4 separate regions of the Homo sapiens genome follow, and all the other regions are reported to be linked to region 2. Evidence: microRNA targets listed by miRTarBase, many of them from high-throughput screens and not tested one by one. Region 2 holds a microRNA gene; each other region holds the end of a gene's coding sequence.
The links. The annotated mature microRNA hsa-miR-4797-3p reads UCUCAGUAAGUGGCACUCUGU and lies in region 2 at 1,738-1,758, opposite strand. An mRNA with a match to its seed (bases 2 to 7 or 8) in the 3' UTR can be bound and repressed. Matches are read on the target gene's strand: a 7mer-m8 pairs with bases 2 to 8, a 7mer-A1 pairs with bases 2 to 7 and ends in A, and an 8mer does both.

Region 1 (4,000 bases), not on the chromosome of region 2:
ATCAATCCTTGGATTAACTTTTTTTAGTCAGGGAAGGGCACGGTATTAATTCTGAAATAAGCTTCAGAAAAAAATGTAAGAAGCAGGCATGAGATAGCCTTAATATACACTAGAAAGCAGTTCTATATATCTTACCTATTTCCTTTAAAAATCTTATGTACATAAATCTTGAAATTGATTTACATGCCAAACTATTTTATCTTGAATATTTCCAAACATAAATCTGTGTGATGGTCATTTCATGTTAAAATGTGTATCTTAATGAGTTACAAATATTCTTCTAAAATGAGGAAAACCCACAGCAAGACAAGAAATCCACTTCTACTTCTAAAAATTGTGTAGCTGTGCTAACACATGCGTCTCTTGTAATAAATGTGATATGAGTTCAAAGGAAGACACAGAACACTAGCTATAATTTCAAAGATCAAGTTTCCTTAAAATATTACAACAGGGGAGTAGAAAATATGCACGAAGGAAACATCCCCTAGTTAAGTGCCAGACAAGCACTGATGTTCATGTCCCACCAGCAGAACACTGTCAGGAAGAGGAGAGTGGCATTTGATGAGCCTCCCACTGACCTGGCTGCAAGCTGTCAGATGCCATGTCATAGCATTTCCTCTATTTAGATACTTTCTAAGTGCCTCAAGTTTTTCAAAGGGGAAAAAGTAGAGCTTGATGGGGGTGGGGTAGCATTTCAATCTGCATGTTTGAAAACATGTCTTCATTTTCATCTATTGCCATTCTATGGAAACGCAGCCGCTTGGGCATTATCTAGCAGGTGGGACTCCACACATGCTACATGCCTCCTGCTTCCTCAGTACCTGCACCCCACCTTCACGTTTGGTATCTTTGCAAAGGCAATTCATTCTTTCAGCTTCAGTGCTTCATGGTTACTTGAGCACACAAGCAGGATCAAAACACTTAGGAACTTTCAAAAGGTTCCTCAATGACTGGGTGCCGTTGAATAAAGCAGCAAATGAAAGGGAACAGGAACAGTTCTGACACATGCACAGGGCACTGTGCTGACGCCCACGGCTCGCTGTCGCGGAGCCATGCCCTGATTTTGAAAGTCTGAAGCCTTTCCAGTGGACACTGCAGGGGTAAACGCCTCTGAACTTCACAGAGGTAAAGGAAAATACCACTAAAGTTTTCTCTTAAAAATATCTGAACTTGAAATTAATTTACATGCCAAACTGTTTTATCTTAAATATTTTCAAACGAAAAAAATTAATCACATTTCCTAACTTCATCTTTTATTTATAGTTATTCCAAAGCAGATATGCTATGATGAGATAGTTCTAAAAATACAGTTCTTTATCCTCAAAACCCTGGTTATACATGAGGCCTAGAAATCTCTTTTCTAGAATTTTTAAAACAACCAGTAAAATATAAAGATCAACCTGTACCCCACAAAGATTCAAGTAAAATTATGTCTTTTCAAAACCTTATATTTTCAAGGAATGTTCTGCAAAAAAGCAGCTTTTATAATTAGGAAGTAAATCGAAATAATACATAAAATGTCTTGTGTTTGCTAATAAATTGAGAAAAGACACAAAATTGAATTATTGATATTTTCTTTTTCTTTAACCAAAATAAAAGTAGGCTCTAGATTCACCTGTTAAGGCCTTAAACAGTCAATTAACCAATACAATTCACCAAACTAGCTTTCTATACAATTAGGAATTAAACAACCCCTTTTAGAGATGTCCTGAGATGACATTTAATGCTAAAATCAAAATAAATAACCCAGCAAGAACAAAAGTTTAAAATTCCAATAATTTCCACTTTGGGGATATTTTTTCACCAAAATTAATCAACATTTCTAAAATATTTCAATACAAAATTATAAAATAAAAAGTGCATTAAAAGCAGAACCTTTAAAACTCTAGCACAATTACAGTTATTCTGCATATGCGGCTACAGCCAGGTTTACACACTGACATTCAAGGAAGGAAACCTCCGGATTGGTAAGAAGTCCAGTATCACAAGCATAAGTCAAATAAGGCTTTTCTTTTTCTTAAAAAAATATACAATACACAAAGCAGTTTGGAAAAGAAGTAATATTATTTAACAATTTTCTGACTTAAATATCTTCACATAACAAAAGTTTTCATATCACCGTCAATATTACTTATATACATATGCCAAAAGTGAACAACAACAACAAAAAAATCAAAAGATGCCCTTTCAAAATAACAGTAAAATGTCTATTTCTTTAGGAATCTGAAATGAGCTCCTCTCTTAATATACAAAGTCCATACAATATTTATAATAAAACTACTCTCTTCTGAAACCAAGGAGGCAACGAGAGAAAATAAAGGCAATTATTTTTCAGGAAAAAAAAATAAAACCCAGCTTTATATGACAATGAAAAAGATATCCATTTATGAATAAAATGAATACAATACTGATCTGAAGTGCTCGTGGGGAGGTGAAACTGACGCTCTTTCTGCAATTAGGACTAGTACTTATATTTACAAAATATACTGTTCAGCCACACAGAGGCCCATATATCTATGTACATATGTATTTATATATAGAACATATAAATAATTTCAAAGGAAAAATTAACATGAAGTAAAGAACCTTCCATCTTTGGAATGCTGTAGGAATGGCGTGCACGCACTCTGCCCAGCACGGGTGGGATTTGGTTTGGGACATGTTTTATGTGGCACCATTGACGATACTAAAGAATTCCCTGAAATCAAAAATACATCTGTTTATGCACGAAGAGAAAGTCATGGGGTTTTTACGGATTCGTGGCCTTAAGCTACAGATATGCTTCTTATTTGCTGGGGTGGACAGGGCCACCGTTGCTTGCTCCTTGCAGACGGTTCTGTGGTTTCCTACCTGCGATGTATGGCTTGTGCTTCTGCAATTATGTAACCCTGGACCTGAACACAGATTGATGCGGTAAGTGTGTCGCCAGCCCGTGTGGACAGCTGAATCCTTATTGGTGGGTCAGGTTTACTCGAGTCCCCATGTTGACGCCCCAGATACTGCATTCTTGTAACTAATGATTAAACATTTGTCATGGAGAGAATTGGTCCAGCCATCTCTCAAGGTATCAGTTATATTAACTTATGGTAGACTGAAAAGAGTCCATTTTGACTAATTTTCAAAATGCACAGAGAAAAGAGTGGAAAAAACTTCCCTGTGTGTTGTAACACTTTTTTTTCTGAACTTCATGCCTCAATCTTACGCTTGCTTTGTAAGCTATGCTTCTTATAACCAGAAACATGAAGGAAAATCTGACATACTTTTTCAATGTTAGCGTTTTTGTCTTTGCTAATACAAAGAAATCACACTACAATGATAGTAAGACCCAGTTAATTGCTTCGTGAACTAGACACACTAGCCACGGAGGAGACTGAGGAGGAAACTGCCTACAGTAGTACCTGAGTTCAGTGATTTGTAGACAAAAGAGAACAATGCGGTGACACTTTTCCTAGTTTTTTTTTCCTATGAGTCTCTGAAAGACAATGATTCTTTAGATAATTTTATAGATAAAAAACTATTGTAGCATTTTTAACACTTGAAGCTTTAAAACGGAGATTCCAAGTGCTTTGCTCTTCACAAAACGTAACTTCAGAAACATTCTTAAAGGTGTACTTCCAACTCGCATCAGAAGACGTGGGTGAGGGCCTGCCACTCGCCGGCGGCCTCCTGCACCACCTCCTCCAGGTGGAGGGTCCGGCTCAGCTCCTCCCCGTCCTGCTCCGGGTGACCTGCAGACTCCTGCAGAGCTCCTGTTATGCAGACAAAGAAAACACAAGCAGCCTCAGACCTTCCAGAGCACAAAATGATTCCTATTTAAATAAAGACTTTCTGGTAGAAAGAGACAAGGAATTTCTAAAGTAATTTGCTTTTCATTCCAGTGAAAAAAGAGTAATTTGAGCTGCAGGTGAAACACCTCTGCCGGCAGGACAGTAGTTACTGTTAGGAGTATGAACGCACACACAGCACTGGTGATATGAGTGCACTCCTATGACAGCTACAT
Region 2 (4,634 bases):
AAGAAATATTTGCACACTCACATTCCTAACAGCATTATTCACAACAGCCAGGAGGAGGAAGCAACCCAACTGTCCATCAATGGATGGCTAGATAAAATGCGGTATATACATACAACGGAATATTATTCAGCCTGAAAAAGGAAGAAAATCCTGTCAACAACTACAACATGAATGAACCTTGCGGACTCTACACTGAGTGAAATAAGCCAGTCGCAAAAAGACAAATACTTCTATGAGGTTTCTAACATGATCAAATTCACTGAAACAGAAAGCAGCACGTTGGTCACAAGGGGCTGGGAAGTGAGAGGAAAGGGGAGCAGTTGTTTATTCGGTATAGGATTTCAGTTTTGCAAGACGAAAGTGTTCTGAAGATTTGTTTCACAACAATATGAATACATTTCACACTCCTGAACTGTACATTTAAAGATGGTGAAGATGGCAAAGGGGTCATACTTTTGAAACTAGTATCTACAAATAAAGATAGGGTAATGTCCTTTTATAAGGGCTAGTGAAACTATTAGATTTTAATAGAGTGGCAACAAATGAACTGGTAACTAAACTCATAAATGGACAGTATTATTACATAATCCACTTTCATTCTGAAATCTCTGCAGAAATAAAACACTGCATTAGAATAAGCTTATTTATTGCAGACAAAATATACAAATCACATGACTCAACTTACTCAAGTCTCTAAAGCCAGCCTAATCTTGGGCCCCAGTTTTTCTCATGCACAAGGAAAGCAGATGAGTTCTCTGATCCCGTAAGAAATAACTGCAGGGGTTTAGACTGGTATGAAGTCTCTATGGACTAGCAGTGTCATCTCAGATCCCACACACCTTAGAATCATGAATGAACTGAAACCACTATGGACCTGAATACCTGGGCTCTGATTATAATCAAACCATATCCCGTCTACTCAAAAAATTTTCAAACTTAAGCACAAAAAACTGGAATACAAAAGCAAGTTTTCAAATTGCTCTCACCTAAATCACAGAGTGAAATTAAGCAGACTTTATCTTCCTTTATACAAAAATAATCACCAGGTATGTTTTGGGAGTAAATTTTAAACAAATGTGCAGTTCATGGACTTTTGTTAAGATACAACTTTAAATATTTAGCTCTAAAGAAACAATACATCAGCTGAAATTCAAAATTAGTAAAAACTTTTCTGCTTTCAATAATTTTTAAATCTTTAAGCCATCCTTCAAAGATACTACCAAGTATCTATCAGCACTAGACCAATGATTTCTATATTACATTGCGAGTATCAATTATAAAATGCACTATTTCATGTGTCAGAACACAGAAACACTGTCAATTAAAAATGACATATACCAGATATTGAAATATTTAACAGTTGGTATTTTAGAACAAATATAATACAGTACGTACATGCTTGTCCCTCTGAATAATCCAAAAGTACAGGAACCTAATCTATGTATCAACTACAGGGGGGGACACCAAACCCCTAGAGACTCAAACTTTTTTAAATGCATGAAAAGTCAATATAAACTACCAGTTCAAAGAATCAATCAATAAATGATCAATGCAGACTGAAAATCCAAAGACACTTGGCACCCCAAACAGATAACTAGATAACTCACTGCGGCCTAAACAAGTGATTTCCAAATTAAGGAAGTGAAAAATCTAAGCACTCAATGACTCCAAACAGCTCAGGTGGCCAAGACCCCTGTTCTCCTTTAATCCAGTGGTCCACAGGTACCAACTCAGAAGACAGAGTGCCACTTACTGAGAGAAAAAACCTTTCAGTAAGTGGCACTCTGTCTTCTGAGTCGGATTTTTCTGCAAACACTATGGACACAATGAACTGGTTTAGCTTAGGGCAGTTTACAAGCTTAAAGTACATTTATGACACTGTTTCAAAACAATGGTAGAGTTGCAAAATACAAAGAAAATCTTATCAGACTAAACATTTTCAGACTAAGTATTAAAAGTTATTCAGGAAACACAAGAGAATGTATTTATTCCGTAGTATCAACAATTATAGCATGGAAACACACAGAACCTCTATTAAACGTTATCTATTTCAAAACTCCTAAAATCTATTACTTGTCTTACACCAAAATGTGATATAGTACCACATCCTATAGAACATTAAATATAAGTAAATTTAAATGTCAAAGTAAATTCACAACCAATGAAATTAGAAGATTCACAAATATAAACTTAGTAATTAGGAAGCTAACTCTAGGCCAGACGCGGTGGCTCACGCCTGTAATCCCAACATTTTGGGAGGCCGAGGTGGGTGGATCACGAGGTCAGGAGATCGAGACCATCCTGGCTTACACAGTGAAACCCCGTCTTTACTAAAAATACAATACAAAAAATAAAAAATTAGCCGGACGTGGTGGTGGGCACCTTTGGTCCCAGCTACTCAGGAGGCTGAGGCAGGAGAATGGCGTGAACCTGGCAGGCGGAGCTTGCAGTGAGCGGAGATCTCGCCACTGCACTCCAGCCTGGGTGACAGAGTGAGACTCTGCCTCAAAAAAAAAAAAAAAAAAAAAGAGAAGAAAGCTAACTCTATCAAAGTTCAATTGTACGTAAGAATAGACACATTCAAAACAGGCAAGGCAGAATAGGTCAAAAATGTCTCTGAACACAGCAAACCCATCCCCAATCTAGACAGAAATATAAATGTAGATTCTGTTATTTCACTAACGATTTAATTTTCTTAAGTTACAGCCATCACACAAAGAAAAGTCTGCAGTCTATCTATCTGCCTATCTATACATATATGTATATATATATCTCTATACTGTTGCGAAAAAACATACTTTTTTTGCAACAGTAACTGCACCAAATTACTAGGCTCAATGTTGATTTAGAAAACAAATAACTAAAAAATGCTTTTTGCTGTTTTTCCAGAGGAATCCAATTTGATCATCCATTCGGACCTTAAACCTCAGAAATTCAAATGTGTAAAAAATGTCCATCAATGTAAACAAAAATGGCAAAATGTGAATTTCTGGAGCTGGGTAACAGTTAAAAGGCAGTTCATTACACTGTGCTATGTATCCTTATGTTTTTAAAAGTCTATTAAAATGTTACATTTTTCAAAATTGTTCAGGTGCATCAAGTGGTCTTTACAAAAATCTTTCATTCTAAAACCGTAGAGAGCATCCATTTATCAATAATGTACCTGACAGGACACACTGACTTGAAAGTAGTCTTCAAATCACACCAACAATTATTCTATCAACAGATAGATGTAAGGCCATATCTGACTGGAAGTTACTGAAGAAATAAATGTAATATAATTAAGTATATGTCTTCTTATGTTAAAATGTTATATAGTTGATAACTAAAACAAAAAAAAAAAACTTCATTCTTAGAATTGGAAGAGACAAACTTTCTAGTTCGGTGGTTTGCAAACTTTTTGAGGTACCTGGACAAAAGAGCCAGACAAGTCACCTTGTTTTATACATAGGAGATTATACACAAAATATGAGATGATGCTTTTAAAAATGATTTATCTACTTAAAAAAGGCTTTAAACCCATTCTGTCATTTCAACAGCTACATTCTACAGCTAATATGGTGGCATAGAAAAGATTAAATGACTTGGGATATATCATTCAATTAGTGGCAAAAGAACTCAGGACTCTTATTTTTCCAGTTCTTTCAAACAATGCACCACTTCAAATTAAGTTACAATTAAGAATAAAACTTTCCATTTTCTTGCCTGTAAAATACGGTTACTAGACAAGATCATCTCTAAGATTATTTTCCAGGTCTAAAATTCTGACTCCATGAATGCCAAGCTCAAACAGAAATCTACATTAAGGGAATGAATGTTCTTCAACACAGCAGAACCCTTCACACGCTTTCAATGACTTCAGAGACATGCCAGTCAAATACAGAAACAAGCTCACAGTAACTCAGTCATACCTTTTAGGTCCTTAAACATCTGTGCAACATCTTTTAATAGTTAATGCTATTAAGATGTGAAACAATGTTCTCAAAAGCCACTGAAATAATCCTGAAAGTTTTTTGGTTACTAGTTATTTTAAGAAAGGACACTGGCCTATGAAAAACACACAACTCACTGAAGATGTTCAAGTTACCGAATGCCTCAGAGAATTAAGTACATCATTTTCTTAAGTTTAAAATAAATGAATTGAGAGGAGCATAAAGCCTAGCTGGCATAATAGTTACGAAGTTTTAATTCCCACCTATTAAAGCCTGAAAGAGGTTGCTCTGAAATATGTTAATAACCCGTTCTATGGAACTTCTGAGCTGTCTGTCTTCAGTTTGGCTTAGTTTTGAACGATATTCCTCCAAAAGGTGCAATGCTCTCTGGGTATCTGAGAAGAAAAAGCAGAGCCTGATTAAAACTCTCTATTTACAAAAAAAGTATCACATACTAGTGCAAATAATTCTGCATGACATCTAAATAGTTCCGCAAATCCTTCAGGTCAATTGATGTCACTATGTTCATGTACACATATTCCTTAGAATGACCAAAAAATAAAAAAAAAAATTAAAGAAATACAAGAAAAATTTAAACATATATCACATTAGAAAACGGAGGAGAGTGAGCAGTTTGGAATAAATGTGTACTGGTAGTTTGCCAAAGTAAAAGATCAAAGTATTAGCAACAGTTTCAGATTA
Region 3 (4,000 bases), not on the chromosome of region 2:
ATGGCACATTTGGTGTGGGGAAAAGGCGGCGAGGCCCTTCGGAGCCATTTAATGCTGGGTTCATTCCGCTAGGCTACTGGGCCAGATATTTTTATTAATAGCAATCATAATTCCACGTTTAAAAACGAAACGGGACCTCAGCCATCCCTCGGAGTATGGAGGACACGCCTGTGGGAAGGCCTGAGGTCTGAGCGAAATGGCCTCTTTTCTGGCTTCCCTGGTGGGTAGCCGGTGTCTCCCACTGAGAACAGGTTACCTGGCTGGTGCCGCTGCTCACAGCAGGGACCCCAGGTTAGAGAAGATTTCCCGGAGCTCCTGCTCAAAGCTGCCCCAGCTGCCTGCAGCCTGTGCTTCCAATTCACAGCCTTTCTCGGACTGCAGGAGTCCCCCTGTGAAGGAAGCCCGACTCAATTCTCTACTCAGGCCCGATTTTCAGGCCCGGTTTGCGTGGGGACCAGTGACTGGGACCTGGGTGAAATTCCACAAAACAAGAGTTGGCCTGGGCCTAGGTCTGGGAAAATCATTGACCAGGAGCTAGACAGATGAGGGGTGGGGAGGACAGAGAGAGAGAGAGAGAGAGAGAGAGAGAGAGAGAGAGAGAGAGAGAGAGAAAGAAGAGAAGAGAAGAGAAGAGAAGAGAAGAGAAGAGAAGAGAAGAGAAGAGAAGAGAAAAAGAAAGAAAGAAAATCTGGCCTCAAAAATATTTCAGCCTTCGGGGGTCTGGTTTTTAAGACCAGAAGATCCCTCCCCTCCCTTTTCCCCTCTCCTGACTGAGTCAGAAGACTTGTATCTCTGGAATTTGGGATTATTTGACCAGAATCTTATTGGCATAAACAGAATTTTTAAGTCCAGGACTCTCCAGAGAGAAGTGAGAGACCCTTCTACCCCCTGGGTCCCTGAGCCTTCAATTCTTCATTTTGGGGAATGAAGATACCAATAAAGACGCCCTCTTACCCCGCTGTGACTGGGGTGGCAGGATGTCCACTCAGCAGGCCCATCCTCCAGGCCAATGGCCCACACTATGGGGGCTGGGTAAGCTGACCAATTGCCAAGGTGAAGTGGGGAGTGGACTTTAAACCGTCTGAACAGAAGTTGGAGTGGATGCAAGCGGGCTGAATGACAGTGATGACAATCTTCCTGTGCAGAGGATTGAATGTGAATTTCAGGATGTGGGCTCAGGCTGGTTGCCTACGAGCTCACTTACTTTCCCCTTCCTTTCTCCTCTCCTTCAGGCTTAAGCTTCCTCACCCTCCATTCTTAGCATCCCCCATCTTCAGGCAAGCCCTGCAGACAGGCCAGCCAGTTGCCCTGAGCCTCACACATCCCCACCCGGTTCATTATTCTAGTGCTGGGTGCTGGGTGCTAAGGTCTGGCCACAAGGGGCATGCGGAGATCAGAAGGAATCCCACTATCTCATCCTCAGCCCCAGACCCTGGAAGAAAAAGTCATAGTTGCATAGGGCAGATTCTTTGTCTGGGCCCAGCCCAAGGCTGAGGAGGAGGAGGGTGGATGAGTGAGGAAATCTTTCTTCCCATTGGGATCCTGGCGTCTGGAAACCCACTTTGTTTGGAGCCAAGATTCCCCCAAGGGCATACCTATAGACTCCTTACTCTCTCAACCAATGGACTGCTCCTTTTCTTCCTCCTCTCAACCCCTCACCCCTTTCACCTGCCCTCCCAGGCCAGCATGCTTTCTCAATTCCCAGGCTTCTCTCCACGTGAGTTTCTGAACCCCAAAGCCAGAGCAGTGAAGCAGACCTTTTCCAGAGAGTTGGACAGGGGGATAAGGAGAGAGAAGGTAGAGAATAGGGAAGAGCTGTGGAGAAAAAGCAAGTCATTCCAGCTTCTATTATTTTTCTTCTTCTTTTTATTATTATGACTCACGTATACAATACAAAGTACTTGGACCAGGAACAGGGCTGTCGGGACACAAAATCTACATTCATAGCTGGACATAAAGACAAATGACAAAAAATTATTATTATAGATATATTTTTAACATTTTTTTCTTTCGAGCACATTGCATAAACAGAGAATTCAAGACAGAGTTAACTATACATTCAGTGCAATTTAGTTCTACTCTACTGGGGTTAGAAGCACAATAAAAGCGCACAGGACCGGCGGGCTAGGCAGTCTCAGTTGTTGGGTTTTCTTAGTGAAATAAGCAGCAACAAACGACAACAAAACCGCATTACAAATACTCTCAAAGCAGGATTTCTTTCTATAGGTAGTGATAAAATACGCTGGAGGTTTCTTTCTTTCTTTTTTTTTTTTTTGATTTTTATTTTTTTCTCTTTTTTTCTCCTATAGCAGGATTTTAAAATTTTTCTCTTTTTCTTTTTCAAGATTATTGCAGGTTCCCTTTAGGTAGTATGTTAAAGATTTATTATTATTATTTTCGTGATTATGGTGATTTCTGAGCACTAACACTAATGCAGCTCAGAGGAAGGCGGGCCCAACAGAATAGAAATCAAACAGCGAAGGAGAGGAAGGCATGGGCCCGAGTGACCATGGGATGGTTAGGTAGGATTTTAGAGGCGACTGCAGGCTCCTATCTACCCTTCTGGAAATGGGGGGAGGGGAAAGACCCACATCTCCTTCAGGTTTCCATCAGGTTCCTAGAGAAAGTCAAGGGGGTTTTTCTAAGCAGGGAGCCCTGGGGAGGGGGAGGGGGAGGGGGAGGGGATATTCCTTGCTTTTTTCCTTATTTCTTTACATTTGTCTTCCTTTCCTTTCTTCATTTTTTTCTGTCCTTTCCTTTTTAGAAAAAGTACATCTAGTACACTAGCCTTAGCATAAAAACAAAACCACAAGTCCTTTTCTGCATTTCGAGGGGGCTCCCCTCTAAAATAAATACCAGAGAAGCAGGGAGGTGGGAGTGTGGTGAGAGACAGACCGAGGAGCACGGAGGCCAGGTCTCAGACCTTAAAATCCAGGAAGGACTCAGAAGGGTGGGGGCAGGGACAAGTGTGTGTGGGGCAAGGAGTGAGACAGAGAGTCCGAACTTTTCACTGTTTCTCCGTCTCCCCCCTCCAGCCCCCAAACAAATAAAGAGTGGGGGAAGTCCAAAGGTAATAAAACCAGAGCTGCAAGTATCTGACAGGTAGTTAGAGTTGTGAGTGTCATTCTATTCTCTATAAAAGCAAATGACAGTCGTAAACTTCTCAATTTATCTGCTACCATAAAACGAAACTTCAAGGGAGTTGCTAAGGGGGGGGGGGTCTTTCTTTTTTGCTTAGTCCTTGTTTTCTTCCTTTTCCTCCTCTTCTTTCTCCTCTTCCTCATTTCCTTCTTCCTCCACCTTCTCCTCATCTCGGGCTCCCGGCAGTTTATCCTTGTTGTTCTCCTTTTTCCACTTCATCCTTCGGTTCTGGAACCAGATCTTCACTTGTCTCTCGGTCAGTCCCAGGGCATGAGAGACTTCAATCCGACGTTTTCGTGTCAAATAAGGATTAAAGAGAAACTCCTTTTCTAGTTCCAAGGTCTGATACCGGCTGTAAGTTTGCCGTCCACTGCGCCTCCCCGGAGCTGGACAGAAGAAAACCCCAGTCTGGTTACGTTTGGATGGGGGCTTGGTTTTCCTTTGCCACTCTTCCTACTCTAAACTCCCCTCTCTGATCTCCTCAGTTCGCCTCCCCTCTATGGAAAAGGCTAGAGCAGAAGGCAGACAAGGGCAGAAAAGTTGGGGGATTGTTTTTGTTTGGCTTCACCTTGGGAGGTGGGGTGGGGGTGGGGGCTAGGGTCTGTTTGGAAACTGGGGCCTTTCAGGGGCTGGGGAGCCCTGTAGAATCCCCCCCACCAGGCCTGTAATCCTAGGAACTGGCCTTTGCAGCTTTGTTTACAAGTGCAGCAGGGCATTTAGTGAGCGAGGCTGGGGACAGACTGTTTCCAAAAGAAAGGAAAAAAAGCTGGGGGTAAAGAAGAGGGGCTCTGCCCACTGCCCTCTCCTTGTCTCTCTCTGCCTAATGCTTTTCCAATAAGAAAAATAATTGATCTGCTGG
Region 4 (4,000 bases), not on the chromosome of region 2:
AGGAACTCATGAATCAGTAGGAAGGAAGATAACCGGTGATGGCTTTAGCCTTATCAGAATGCCAGTCACATGAGCTGCACACTTAAACTAAGTTGGAAGAAATTTGTCAGCAACAAGTTAAACTTTTCACCATGCATTTAGCATGGTACTCTATCTTCTCTTTCAGAAAGTGACATCTGAAACACTGATGCTATCTTACCAAGTATAGAATTTGGAGTGGTCCAGTCCCAATCACCAAGTCAAAGGAGACCTGATCTTTTCCCAGTATGTTCAAATATCTTCAGATTCAAAATTTTCTCTTTTACACAGCATTTCAATGACTCTCAGAACAATTTAGACCTTGAGCTTTTCTAGAACTTTATATTGCAACCAAGGCACATGTCTTTAAAAGTAGCAAATACTGATACAGTCATTAACATCTAGCATAGCTATGAATATTTCTTCTTATATCATTAAATCCTTGCCACGAATAAAATTGTTTTCTGGTGTCGAGTTAGCAGCATCTGATGAGTGAGGCCTTTGCTGCTCACACATGCATATTTAATGTAGGCCAAGGTCAAGCTGCAGTAGCCTGCATGAGACCACTTGCACATGCCAGTGCCTTTGTTGATGCCAGCACCACTACAGTAGCTTGCTAAGCCTCACCTTGGGCTGGCATCTGGTGAGGACATCCATGAGGCCAGCATTTGGGTGAGCCCCACTTCCAGATTCTCTGTCTTTGCTGAAGCCAATATGTCTCCATCACCCTCACTCAAACTCTGCTTCATTGAGGCCTGCGCATATGTGCTTAAAGCCCAGTATTGCACATTGTCTCTATAGAAATTACCAATTTCTCTGGACAAAGATATCCTAAACTTTTAGGTCAAAATCCCACGTGCCTTAAGTCTTAAAGCCTCTTGCCAAAACTGCAACTAAAAGCCTACTTCACACTTACAAAGTCAAATTAATAGCCCTAATAGAAGCCTCTACAAACTACCAAGATCAAAGCTCCCTACGTATACATTAAGGTCTGAAACCAGAAACCATAAGCTATGGCCACAATTAAGCCTCTCTCTTTCTATGTTGTGCTCCTTCAAATTTTATTCCTCTTTTATTTCTTGATGTACTAACCCATATAGCACAAATTTCTATATATATTTTCCAAAAATATCCATCCCCCTTCTAACATTTATCAATATAGCCTGTTCTTCACTTATAGTATTAGAATAGCAATTAAGAGTACATGCACTCTGCTGACAGCCCAGGTCCTCCTCCCAGACATCATTTATTACTTTACCTCCCCTGGGTGGAACAAGTGGGACAAGAAGTAAAGATACCATGAGTGTTTGGATGATGGTGTCTTCTCCACATGGAAGGAAACAATAGGGAACCGATAGGAACTATTACCTCCATCAATAATAATATATTCTAACTACTTATTAGATATTTAAATAATACCAAGCTTGCTTCCCTTTGTAACTTTCCTCATGCTCTTACACTTCTAATCTTTTTAACCTCGAAGGCTTTCCTTAAATGCTATTGCACACATGAAACTTTCTCTGATTTCTTAAACCAAACAAAACCTCTTTCTTCTCTGAGGCCCTGGTCCAACATTTTTTAAGTGTGGCGAGGAGCAACCCAGCAGAATCACTGGGGTTGCCTGTTAAAACATCCATTACTAAGCCCATCTACAGTATCCAAATTCCTTAGTGTAGGGTCCTCAAACATGCCTCTTAAGAAGCCTATAGGCCAGGCACAGTGGCTCACACCTATAATCTCAGCACTTTGTACGGCCAAGGTTGAGCCATAAGGATCCCTGAGGCCAGTTCAAAACCAGCCCAGGCAAGGCTGAACTTGGCAAGACCTCATCTCTACAGAAAATGTTAGCCAGGTGTTGGCACGTACATGTAGTCCCAGCTACTCGTGAGGCTGAGCAGGATAACTTGAGCCCAGGAGTTTGAGGCTGCTGTGAGCCATGATCACACCACTGCACTGCAGCGTGGGCGGGAGACTGTCCACCACCAAGATAATAAAAAAAAAAAAAACGAAAAAGGAAAAGCTTCCTGGGTGCTTCATTGATAACACTAAAATCTTAACCTTTTGCTTTATCTGATTGTCACTGATTACTTTTTCCCCCATTATACCATTACTTGGCATTTATTCCTCTACAAGAACTTTGGAATTTTAAAGAGTAACTCCTTAATATAAGTTTTGCATAAAGTAGCTTTTAACAAAGTCGTTAAAATGAATATAATTTGACTTTCACTTGTCTCTCAAAAGGACTAGATCTCCTTCCATGTTTTGTCATGATTAAGTGTCTAGAAGTGAAAATGCACAAAAATTGTAAAGCAATTTACTGAAATAATTTATCCTCCATCATGATGTGATGTGTCTTCACCAATGTAGCCAAATTTAGGCTTTCTGGGCTGCTTACTTTAAATGCAATATAGTGCAATGCAAATTTCTAAAGCATTGCTTTTCTATGCAATGAAGATTAAGTTCAGTGTTATCTAAGCACTTTCTACTGATCTTGAAATGCAGAATAAATTAGTAGACTGAAAGAGCTCCCTAAAATCTTAATGCAATTTCAGACTGTATTTGCTATCATTTATAAAATTTTATTATTCAATATTTGGCAAGTATTATTGGTCAGCCCTTTTTGCTTACAATGACTATATATATATTTCAAGCCTTTCTCATTCTTCTGCAATTTGCAAAGCATGAGAAGCAGTTATCCCAGTGGCTTATCTCAGCTCACAAGGGTACCAACAAGGGAGACAGAGATAATGTTCTTAAAGTATAGGGTCCATAGGAACTGGAAAGCTTAATTCTTGCTGTGACACTGTGGGGTTTCCATCATTATTTAAAAGACCTTAGACTAACAAGCCATGTACATCCATTTAAGGGAATGTTTATAAATATCAGACTTTGAGTTCACTGCTTTGTGAAGGTCGCTTTGTTATATGGTGAGGGCAGTTTATTTCAGCACCCATCACCCTGTAACATGTACTTAAAATAAATAAAAAGTCCAAGAGGAGTCTTTGCCTCCCTCATCATTAAAATAAATTTTAAAACAACGTAACTGTTTACTAAATTGAAATATTTCATTGAAATGCTTCATTGATAGCTCTGATTCCTTATTTTTAAAAAATTTATTTCATATAAATCTCATATGGTACAAAAGTATTACATGCTTGGGCCTGTCTTGCAAAATAAGAGGTTCTTTCAGTTCTTCAGGCCAACCTTCCTTCAGAGGCAAATAAATAAGAAACATGTAGAACATATTTAGAAAATTTTTTACCATAATAAAAATATGTGAACATCTTATATTTAGCATAGTTTAGCAATCCAGTTTATGTCGACAAATTTAGTTCACTGCTGGGAGGCACATGTCACAGAAGAACCTAATAGGCAGCAGATATTTTAACCTGTAGGAACAAAATGTTTAACATTTTTCTTGTATTTTTTGAAGAAGGTACTCCATTTGTACATTCAAGTTTGGTTGGCCCTTTTTAGTCTTTTTGTTCAGTATTTTAAACACTTCCATTTTCTTCTTTTTGTACTGCCTTTGGGCTTCTTCTCTCTCCTGTTTTCTCCTCTCGAATTCCTAAAATTATTAACATATGTAACTTTCATTAGCAACAAACAGTAGATACAGTTCAGAAATTGTCTTGAAATAGCTATTACTAAGCAAACACTCTAAGGTTTGTCTCTTCTATTTTGCAAGATGTGCACTGTTTCTCCTAATTGAAGCAAAGTACCCTCTTTGCCTTCATATTATAATGACCCATGGTATAACAGAGAATTTTCATGATCACAAAGCCCCAGCTCTATATAAACAAAATTTTAAAAGGACATTAAATGTTTTACAGCATAATGGTCATTACTGCACTTCATCTGATATACTGTTTCCAAAGGTGACAGATGGTTGGAAAAAGCATAAAGCTGTGCTAGTTAATACTGGTCCAGTATTCCCATGAAGAAATTTTCCTGCTTTCTCCTAATCTGCCACCAGCTTAAG

Region 1: the mRNA of ZNF236 is a reported target of hsa-miR-4797-3p. Seed matches in the 3' UTR shown: 7mer-m8 at 814-820.
Region 3: miRTarBase lists HOXC8 as a target of hsa-miR-4797-3p. Seed matches in the 3' UTR shown: 7mer-A1 at 2,133-2,139.
Region 4: the mRNA of CCDC59 is a reported target of hsa-miR-4797-3p. The part of its 3' UTR that is shown has no 7-base or 8-base seed match.

What each region holds. Positions count from the first base shown.
Region 1 is chr18:76,967,964-76,971,963 of GRCh38, reverse strand. It overlaps ZNF236 (zinc finger protein 236), which reads right to left. Exons shown (of 31, transcript NM_001306089.2): 31 at 1-3,749. The coding sequence ends at 3,625. Among named protein-coding and RNA genes, the nearest start is that of MBP-AS1, 10 kb to the left of the region's middle.
Region 2 is chr3:197,292,151-197,296,784 of GRCh38, forward strand. It overlaps MIR4797 (microRNA 4797), which reads right to left and starts at 1,798; the gene lies at 1,728-1,798. DLG1 (discs large MAGUK scaffold protein 1) reads right to left here. Exons shown (of 25, transcript NM_001366207.1): 3 at 4,196-4,327.
Region 3 is chr12:54,010,616-54,014,615 of GRCh38, reverse strand. It overlaps HOXC8 (homeobox C8), which reads right to left. Exons shown (of 2, transcript NM_022658.4): 2 at 1,847-3,527. The coding sequence ends at 3,235. Among named protein-coding and RNA genes, the nearest start is that of HOXC8, 3.6 kb to the right of the region's middle.
Region 4 is chr12:82,349,727-82,353,726 of GRCh38, forward strand. CCDC59 (coiled-coil domain containing 59) reads right to left here. Exons shown (of 4, transcript NM_014167.5): 4 at 2,577-3,586. The coding sequence ends at 3,425. Among named protein-coding and RNA genes, the nearest start is that of CCDC59, 6.7 kb to the right of the region's middle.